Linked DNA regions of Homo sapiens. The protein of the gene in region 2 interacts with the protein of the main gene of each other region in a pairwise test. Each region holds a gene or a part of one and is shown on either strand. Other genes may lie near its edges.

Evidence for each region.
Region 1: the proteins of PRKD3 (region 2) and MYH3 interact in a two-hybrid assay, tested with the Homo sapiens proteins (one large-scale study listed by BioGRID and IntAct).
Region 3: the proteins of PRKD3 (region 2) and NUDT3 interact in a two-hybrid assay, tested with the Homo sapiens proteins (one large-scale study listed by BioGRID and IntAct).

Annotation. Positions count from the first base shown.
Region 1 is NC_000017.11:10,630,595-10,633,472, reverse strand, and holds part of MYH3 (myosin-3), read left to right. Parts: exon of another isoform or gene 1-57; intron 58-688; coding exon 689-997; intron 998-1,456; coding exon 1,457-1,660; intron 1,661-1,708; exon of another isoform or gene 1,709-1,736; coding exon 1,737-1,862; exon of another isoform or gene 1,863-1,892; intron 1,893-2,804; exon of another isoform or gene 2,805-2,841; intron 2,842-2,878. UniProt on the Homo sapiens protein: Muscle contraction.
Region 2 is NC_000002.12:37,272,611-37,276,349, forward strand, and holds part of PRKD3 (serine/threonine-protein kinase D3), read right to left. Parts: intron 3,235-3,739; coding exon 3,157-3,234; intron 2,088-3,156; coding exon 1,811-2,087; intron 1-1,810. UniProt on the Homo sapiens protein: Converts transient diacylglycerol (DAG) signals into prolonged physiological effects, downstream of PKC. Involved in resistance to oxidative stress.
Region 3 is NC_000006.12:34,386,170-34,389,669, reverse strand, and holds part of NUDT3 (diphosphoinositol polyphosphate phosphohydrolase 1), read left to right. Parts: intron 1-3,500. UniProt on the Homo sapiens protein: Cleaves a beta-phosphate from the diphosphate groups in PP-InsP5 (diphosphoinositol pentakisphosphate) and [PP]2-InsP4 (bisdiphosphoinositol tetrakisphosphate), suggesting that it may play a role in signal transduction.

The DNA.
Region 1 (2,878 bases), on a different chromosome or scaffold from region 2:
CTGCTGCTTTCCCGTCACACAGCAAAACTGTGAGGCTGAATAATACCTGTGAATTATCTTAAATTTATTGGAGAAGACTGTCATATTAAATAGGCCTAAAGATGAGATTTTACAAAATATTACATGAATTAAAAATATCTAGAAAGTGCTTTATGCTCCTAAGAAATATGATTTAAACATTATTATTGGTTGATAGTATAATCAAAACCAAAAAGCAATGAAACGTGCTTTTATTTCTGCACTGAAGATAAATTTGGGACTTTTTTTTTCTTGAGACAGAGTTTTGCTCTTGTTGCCCATGCTGGCAATCTAGGCCCACTGCAACCTCTGTCTCCTGGGTTCAAATGATTCTCCTGCCTCAGCCTCCCGAGTAGCTGGGATTACAGGCGGGCACCACCATGCCTGGCTAATTTTTGTATTTTTAGTAGAGACAGGGTTTCACTACATTGGTCAGGCTGGTCTCAAACTCGTGACCTCAGGTGATCTGCCCCCCTCGGCCTCCCAAAGTGCTGGGATTACAGGTGTGAACCACTGCACCCGGCCAATTTGGGGACATTTAAAAAGTGAATTGTGACTATTGTAGGATTAGATTTAGGACTATTCCATTGAAGTTTTGTTATCCTGCAGGGTAGTGGAGCTGGCTCCATACCATCACAGACACTATTTGATTTGCTTTTGTTTCTTAAAGGCTGCTCTTGAGCATGAAGAAGCCAAGATCCTCCGAATCCAGCTTGAATTGACACAAGTGAAATCAGAAATTGATAGAAAGATCGCCGAGAAGGATGAAGAGATCGAGCAGCTGAAGAGGAACTACCAGAGAACAGTGGAAACCATGCAGAGCGCCCTGGACGCCGAGGTGCGGAGCAGGAATGAAGCCATCCGGCTCAAGAAGAAGATGGAGGGGGACCTGAATGAAATCGAGATCCAGCTGAGCCACGCCAACCGCCAGGCGGCGGAGACCCTCAAACACCTCAGGAGTGTCCAGGGACAGCTGAAGGTTTGAGAGAACCCATCGGGGAAAAACCTCTCTCCTCCTCACATACTCAGAAATGTAGGCTGGGCACAGTGGTGCACGCCTGTAGTCCCAGCGCTCTGGGAGACTGAGGCAAGAGGCTCACTTGAGCCCAGGAGTTTGATACCAGCCTGGGCAATATAGCAAAACCTTATCTCTACAAAAAAAATAAAAATTAGCTAGGCATGGTGGCACAAGCCTGTGGTCTCAGCTACTTGGGAGGCTGAGATGGGAGGATTGCTTTCCAGGAGGCAGAGGTTACAGTGAGCTGAGATCACGCAACTGCACACCAGCTTGGGTGACAGAACAAGACCCTGTCTCAAAACAAACAAAACAAAACAAAACAAAAACAAACAAACAAACAAACAAAACTCAGAGATGCAGATGAGGCTCGTGGTCCTAACGCCTCAACTTCAAATAGAATGTTCGTTTTTCTCTGGCTAGGATACGCAGCTCCACCTGGATGATGCCCTCCGGGGCCAGGAGGACCTGAAGGAGCAGCTGGCGATTGTGGAGCGCAGAGCCAACCTGCTGCAGGCCGAGGTGGAGGAGCTGCGGGCTACTCTGGAGCAGACGGAGAGGGCCCGGAAACTGGCGGAACAGGAGCTCCTGGACTCCAACGAGAGGGTGCAGCTGCTGCATACCCAGGTGAGGGGAGGGAGAGGAAGAGAGGCGAGGTTCCAGCCTCATACGCACCTGGTTAACAGCCCTCCTCTTGCCCTAGAACACCAGCCTCATCCACACCAAGAAGAAGCTGGAGACAGACCTCATGCAGCTCCAGAGTGAGGTAGAAGATGCCAGCAGGGATGCAAGGAACGCTGAGGAGAAGGCCAAGAAGGCCATCACGGACGTAAGGCGTCTCCTTCCTGCTGCCCTCGGGCTGCCGGGATTGCATTGCATTAAAGCCCTCACATAGTTAGACAGGTGCGGTCTCCCCCAGCCACACCTGGTGCACATTCTGCTCCCCGAGGGCTCCCATCTCCGCTCAAACTCCCCTGTTCCCTCCTGCACTTTAGAAGAAGGGCATAAGAAAAAAAGGCAGGAAGGGATTATATCCTAGTAGTTCTGCCTGTGGAGAGGTGTGCATGTCTTTCCTTCAACATCTGACTTATTCCAAATATGAAAACAAGAACCTGAGGTGTTAATATCCCACACATTTTTCCCTTCCTGGGTCTCCGAGGCTTTCTCCCGGCGGCCCACCGCGCTAATGGCGCCACCTGCTGCCTGGCGGGAGAACTTTACCTCGAAGCGATTTTGTTGTTCCTGTACAGCCTTAATTCTCCAGAGGCCTTCCCTTAATCTCACTATCCCCAAATCTATGAGGCTGAGTATCAAGTCAGACTACTCTAAGTCTCAAGCTCCTTTGAAAATATATATTGGTGGTAATGAAAAAAGAATTTCCCTGGGGCAGGGGAGAGTTTCAAAGGAGGCCAGCTTAAGAAAGGGAAGAAACTGTTTCCCAGCCTGTCGCTAAAGTTCTCATTGCCTCATTGATTAGGTTATTTTATCTACTGGGTGTAGCTCTGGCCCTCTTCCAGGGTGGCAGAGTGTGCTTCATCACAGTCTCACCCGTTGTCCTTTTTCTTTCTTTCTTTCTTCCCCCACCCCCGAGATGGAGTTTCACTCTTATTGACCAGGCTGGAGTGCAATGGCGAGATCTCGGCTCACTGCAACCTCCTCCTCCTGGGTTCAAGCAACTCTCCTGCCTCAGCCTCCGGAGTAGCTGGGAATACGGGCATCTGCCACCACGCCCAGCTAATTTTTTGTATTTTTAGTAGAGATGGGCTTTCACCATGTTGAGCAGGCTGGTCTTGAACTCCTGACCTCAGGTGATCCACCCGCCTTGGCCTCCCAAAGTGCTGGGAT
Region 2 (3,739 bases):
CATCCATACAAAAGAATACTATCTCAACATTTAATCGATGATGTAGGACTATAAATACTGAATCAGAAAGTCAGAAAGCTAGTTATGATTATTACTGAGTTAAAAAGGGAAGTTTTACTGTAATCCCAGTGCATTAGGACGCTGAGGCAGGAGGATCACTTGAGCCCAGGAGTTTGAGACCACCTGGGCTACAGGATACCCTATCTCTAAAAAAATTTTAAAATTAGCCAGGCATAGTGGTGTGCACCGGTAGTCCTAGCTACTCAGGAGGCTGAGACAGGAGGATCTGAGCCCTGGAGTTTGAGGTTGCAGCAAGTTATGATTTGCGCACTGCACTCTCACCTGGGCGACATAGCGAGACCCTGTCTCTTGGTGGGGGGAGGGGGGGAAGTGGAGTCAAGGGAATTGCAGGGTAGCAGTGCTTAAATTAAAAACAAAAATCTGTGATTACTTTTGGTGAGTGGAAGAGGTGGGGTTGGGGGACAAAGAGTTTTTATACACTTCTAAATTGCTTGCATTTTTATAATTTTATAATGTTGTTTTTTGGTACTTTAATACATTTATTGCCTGAAATAAATCACCTCATTTATCTTTTAAAGAGTGTGTAAGTGCCTGTATTGTTTTCTGAGGAAACAGTCCTAGTTTTAATTAGAATGACATAGAGTTCTGTCTAAAAACCTCGAAAACTTAAGAACCACTGTGAAACATCCATCTACTTACACCCATTCCAACCCCAAATCAGTACTGAACACCAAACATGTACACAGTTGTCATGATCCTCATCACACTTGTCTCAACTAAATAATGTTACCCCTCCACCCCTCCCACTGAGATCTGCCTACTGTATTTCTACCTGAGGTTCAAATCAGGTTCTTCTATGAAGTCTTGTTTACTCTTCTGTCTGTATCTGAGTTTTTTAAGTAATGTATTCCTCACTTTTGCACTGTACTGCTTTATGCTACCATCTAATACCTTTATATATCCCATCTCTCCCTAAAGAGCTTTTATGATTTCTGTATTTATTTTGTATTTTAGCTCAGGGCCTAGCATAATAGTTGTACAAAATAATACAGCTAAACTAAAATAAACTACCTTTGGAAAGTTGTTGATACTTATTTCAATTTGAGTATATTTCTCAAATGAATGACTTATGTGTCCCCATAAGCAACATAATGTTAATGGGGGAGAAGTGACATTATAGTGACCTTTCGATTGTTAACTGTTTACTTTTGAAACTTTATCCAATTTAGGCTTAATTATATAAGTTTTGTTGGTGCAAAACATGTTTCAGTGATTTTTAAATATTTCTGTATGTTTTAATACAGCATTTCTGACTTCACAGATTTCATGAGTGTGATGTGAACCATAATACTTTATTGCCTGTTTATATCCCACTATAAAGCAAAATATTAATACCAGTAGCAGGCATAATCCAATGAGACTTTACGGATGCCAAGCACTGTTCTGTATCTTACAGGTTCTCTTTCATTTAATACTGACAACCTTATGAAGTACTTACTACTACAGTGAGGTAAAGTACTTGCCTGATCATATAACAGATGGTATAGCCAGGATTTTCATGTAGGAAAACTGACTCTGGAGCCTAGCACTGGGCATTGTATGTACGTATATATACTATAACCAATATAATTTTATAAAAGAGTTAACTAATTGTATTGGTTACTAAAGTATTGGTTACTAAAGACTAAGCTTAGGATGAACATTAAAAGGAACAAAGGAACACAACCATACCCACAAAATGCTTAAGAATTAAAGAGGAGAAAAAGCCATCAAGAAGTTTATTGCTTACTGTGATCTTTCCCTTGCCCTGGAGAAGTGCAAACACTTGCTTGAGGAGTAACAGGCATGAGGGCTTGGCGAATTGCTTTTTCCCAGCTCTGTGCTACATCAAGTCCAACTCCAGTGGCAGCAAGAACAGGATTATGAGAGCTGTCCCCATTGTTCTCACCAACGAAGTATACCATAGTATCAGTAATGATTTCAAAACAGTGTGGATTGCTGCCTTGTGAAATGTTTGTGAAATCTCGTGGTGAAGATATGCGGAGAATTTCTGAAAGTGGAATTTCCTGAAGTAAAAAATTAAGCATTGAAAAATAAGAATAGATCTTTGTTTTTATTTTTAAATACACTAAAGAACCAGAGATATGCATTTCAATGAATGCCATTAAGACGGACACAAGTATGCAACATTTAATACACAGTTGAGTCTTATGACATGGCCTGTCTTGAATGAGCTGCAATGTCCAGCAATGCCAGACGCAGAGCATGGACTATGATAACTAAGCCAGTAGCAGATCATTAGGATGCAAGGAAGAAGATATAGGAGAGTAATCTGCCACTATATCCAACACTTGTAACTTCCAACTGTCATTAATTCAGCTTCACAACTACTTATCTAGTGACTGTAGTCTACAAGATATAGCCCCAAAGCAAGTAAGAAGCAGAAATAATGGCAGAAAAAGCAGAATCTTGGTCAGTTGTTTAAGCCACTCCCATTCTGGTTCTGTCCACTGGAGTAACCTGTAGCAATCATTATATTTTTAGTCCACTTCCTAAGGCAAAAAAAAAAACTTACTAAAAACAAACAAACAAAAAAACACCTGCTCAAAGCAAGCCATTAGTTCCCATTCTCTCTTACTGACCTAACTGCTTGGTTATAATCTTGCTTGCTATCAGTTTGTGATGTGGCAAAACGTGGAATAAGCCAAGCAAGGAAGACTGTAAAAAGGAGATTAAGAGCCAAACAAGCAATTGGGAATTGGCACCCAAGGTAAGGTGGAAGGTGGGAGAAATACTAAATACCTCACTGACCTCTTCTGGACAGTCAATGATGATGGGACTTTCTAAGCAGTCTAATCTAAATCAGAGTATCCAGAAGGAAAGCAGCAGCAACCTGACAGGCAAGCCAGAAATAAATAAATACACGACAACAACAAACAGTCTGGAAGGAGAGCTGCTGTGGGGGAGTGAAATTTGGTATGGGAAATAGTTGCTTCAACAAGGAACCTAACAGTGACTTCTATAAACCATACTAGCTAGAGTCATATATATTCAAATATAACAGTTAATGAATATTATCTGAAAAAAACATACACTATCTTAATGCTTATATTTTTTAAAGTGTAAAATCCTTACCTTATAATACTTTGATCCAGATTCATTCTGAAATAATGTTAGACATTTGCTGTCAAGTCTCCAATAATGCCTCTTTCTCTATAAAATGAAGATTGGAAAACTGTGAGGTTCAAAAATGATTCCTCCAAAGTGCTTGTACCTAACTTTTCCCTTCATTTACATTCATAAATTTGTATTTTTGAATAACTTTAAGATTCATGAGGTTCAAAATTCTCAAGATATAAAAAGGATGTATGGTGAAAAGTATCACTTCCACCATCACTCATCCCCACTCCTCACCCTTACTCCAGGCAAAGCATGTTATCAGGTTTCTGGGAATCCTTGTAGAGAATTTCATACATGCACACATGAATACATATATATATATGACACATACACACACACACATAAAAATATGTAATTTACCTATAGGCTATATTTCTAGAAGTTGATTTGCTGGGTCAACAGACATGTGCACATGTAATTTTGCCTGATAGTGTTATATTATTCTACACAAGATTTGACCCAATTTATAGTCTCTTCAGCAACGTATGAGAGTCCCTAGTTACTCACACCCTCATTAATGCAGTATGTTAATAACTTT
Region 3 (3,500 bases), on a different chromosome or scaffold from region 2:
TTTATTTATTTTGAGACAGGGTCTTACTGTGTCACCCAGGTTGGAGTGTAGTGGTGTGATCATGGCTCACTGCAGCCTCAACCTCCTATGCTCAAGCAATCCTCCCGTCTCAGCCTCCCAAGTAGCTGGGACTACATGCACAAGCCACCACATCTGGTTGATTTTTAAATTTTATGTAGAGACAGGGTGTATTAGTCCATTTTCACACTGTTATAAAGAAATACCTGAGACTGAGTAATTTATAAAGAAAGAGGTTTAATTGACTCACAGTTATACATGGCTGGGGAAGCCTCAGGAAACTTACAATCATGGCAGAAGGCAAAGGGGAAGTAAGAACCTTCTTCACAAGGCAGCAGGAGAGAGAGAAGGGAAGGAGGAACTCCCAAACACTTGTAAAACCATTGGATTTCGTGAGCATTCACTAGCATGAGAACCGCATGGGGGAAACTCCCCATGATCCAGTTACCTCCCTCACTCAACACATGGGAGGGATTACAGGTTCCCTCCCTCCACAGGTGGTGATTACAAATCGAGATGAGATTTGGGTGGGGACACAGAGCCATAGCATATCACAGGGTCTCCCTTTGTTGCCCAGGCTATTGTCAAACTCCTGGGCTCAAGAGATCCTCCCATCTCAGCCTCCCAAAATGCTGGGATTATAGGCAAGAGCCACTTTGCCAGGCCAGGAGCTTAAAATTTTAAACTGTTAAAATGAGTTTCTTTAATGCATTGAGTTTCCTTTATTGAATTTCTTTTTGAACGTTGGCTAATGAGCCGAGGAATCATGCAAAGCTTTAAATTACAGATTCAGTGGGTGTTACAGCTAAAGCCTGGGAAGAAAAATAAAATGAGTGAAATACGTCCATTTTAGATTTGTTCAGTTCAACAAACATGTATGAGAAACAACAAAAAGCATGTATTAAAGAGCCTGCTATGGCTGCAGCGCTGTGTCATGGAGAATCTAAATATTAGCATCCCTTCTTGCAGACAGAGTTGAGTAGTTTTAGATGAGATTCCTTAATTGGGAGGGATTTTGGACCACAGAATAATCTCTAGGGTGCTTTTCAACTCTCAGATTATATAATTATGTTGGAAGGGAAGTAATTTGTTAGTTCCAGGAGAACTTTTATGTTCTCAGTAGATGTGCCAGAAGCATTAGCTGCCACACATTGTGGGAATGTAAAATTCCAACCGAATAAGGCATTCAACCCAATTAAAAAAAATTTTAATGGGCACTAATGGCCTTAATCAAGATAGAATAGTTTACAGAATATTATTAGCATTAATACAGTAGTAATATAAGTATAAATAGGACCTTGATTTATAAATTTAAGCAATGTCAAGAAGCATACATGGAATGTGAAGAAAAAGAGATGAAAATACAGCCATGTGTCGCTTAACGTTGGGGATACGTACTGAGAAATGCATCATTAGGTGATTTTGTTGTTGTGTAAACATCATAGAATGTACTTACACATACCTGGATGGTATAGCCTACTGCACATGTAGGCTATATGGTATAGCCTATTGCTCCTAAGCTGCAAAACTGTACAGCATGTGACTGTACTGAATAAATAGGCAATTGTAATGCAGTAGTATTTGTGTATCTAAACATATCTAAACAAGCAAAGTACAGGAAAAATACGGTACAAAAAATAAAAAATGGTTCACCTGACCAGGACACTTATTATGACTGGAAGTTGCTCTGGGTGCATCAGTGAGTGAGCGGTGAGTAAATGCGAAGGCCTAGGGCATTACTGTACACTACAGAAACACTGTACAGCTTAGGTTGCACTAAATCAAAAAATTATTTTTCTTCGATAATAAATTAACCTTAGCTTACTGTAATTTTTTTACTTTATAAACTTTTACATTTTTTAACATTCTGACTCGTTTGTAATACTTAGCTTAAAACACATTGTACAGCTATATAACAATATTTTTCTCTTTCTTTCCTGTCATACTAAAATCACTTTTTTTTTTTTTTTTTTTTTTTAAAAAGAGATGAGATCTTGCTCTGTTCCCCAGGCTGGTCTTGAATTCCTGGGCTCAAGTGATCCTTCCACCTCAGCCTCCCAAGCAGCTAGGACAACTGGTGTATGCCGCCATGCCTGGCTAATGTTTTCTTCATTATATCTTTATTCTAGAAACTTTATTTAAAAATATTATTTAGTATTTGTTTGTTTTACTTTTTGTTCCTCTGGCTACCCATATTTTACTTTTTAAGCTTTTTCTTTGGTTGAAAACAAAGACACAAACACACATTAACCTAGGCCTACACAGGGTCAGGATCATCAGTATCACTGTCTTCCACCTCCACATCTTATCCCACTGGGAGGTCTTCAGGAGAGTAACAGGCGTGGAGCTATCATCTCCTATGATAACAATCCCTTCTTCTGAGACTGTTTTACAATTAACTTTTTAAAAAAATAGAATACACTCTACAGTTAAACAATAAAAAGTACAGTATAGTAAATACAGAAACCAGTAATAGTCATTTACTATCAAGTATTATGTACTGCACATAATTGTATGTGCTACATTTTGTTGTTGTTGTTTTGAGACAGGGTCTTACTCTGTTGCCCAGGCTGGAGTATAATGGTGTGATCACAGCTCACTGCAGCCTTGACCTTCTGGGCTTAAGCGATCCTCCCACCTCAACAAGTATCTGGGGCTCCAGGCACATGCCACCATGCCTGGCTAATTTTTGTATTTTTTTGTAGAGATAGGGTTTCGGCATGTTGCCCAGGCTGGTCTTGAACTCCTGGACTAAGGCAATCTGCATCCTCAGCCTCCCTAAGTGCTGGGATTACAGGCATGAGCCACCGTGCTCAGCTGTGCTAGACTTTTATATGACCGGCAGCACAGTAGGTTTGATTGTGTACTCACCATAAACACATGAGTAATGCATTGTGCTGTGACACCACAGCTATGATGGGATAGGAATTTCTCAACTCCATTATAATCTCTTGGGACTACTCTTGTATATGTGGTCTGTAGTTGACTGAAATGTTATATAGTCCATGACTATATTAGAAGGTAATAGATCATGGGTAGCCAAACCTATCATTCTAGGTTTTTTTTTTCCCCAGCCCCAGAAAACTTTATTTATAGACCAGCAATGAGAGGCTGAAATTCTGATCCAGGTTAGGATGTGTCAACATAGCAAATTTATTGAACACTCATTGAGTGCCAAGTTCTGTGATACTGTTATGAAGGAGACAGACATGCAGGGAGCTTAGAGTCTAATGGGAGAGATGGAAGAACAAACAGACCAAACAGCATGATGAAAATGATTACCTTTTCTTTTTCTGGCTTCTCTTCTTGTTGACAAACAAAAATTAACAGGAAAAAACTTCCCACTTAAAAAGTTGTACTGATTGTTATTGGTATGTTGATAACATCTTTAAATTGGGTATTTGTGGTAACTAACATTTATTACAGTAGTTTGAACCTGATATACAGTTTCTTAACCAACCACCACTTTAACCAGCTTGGTA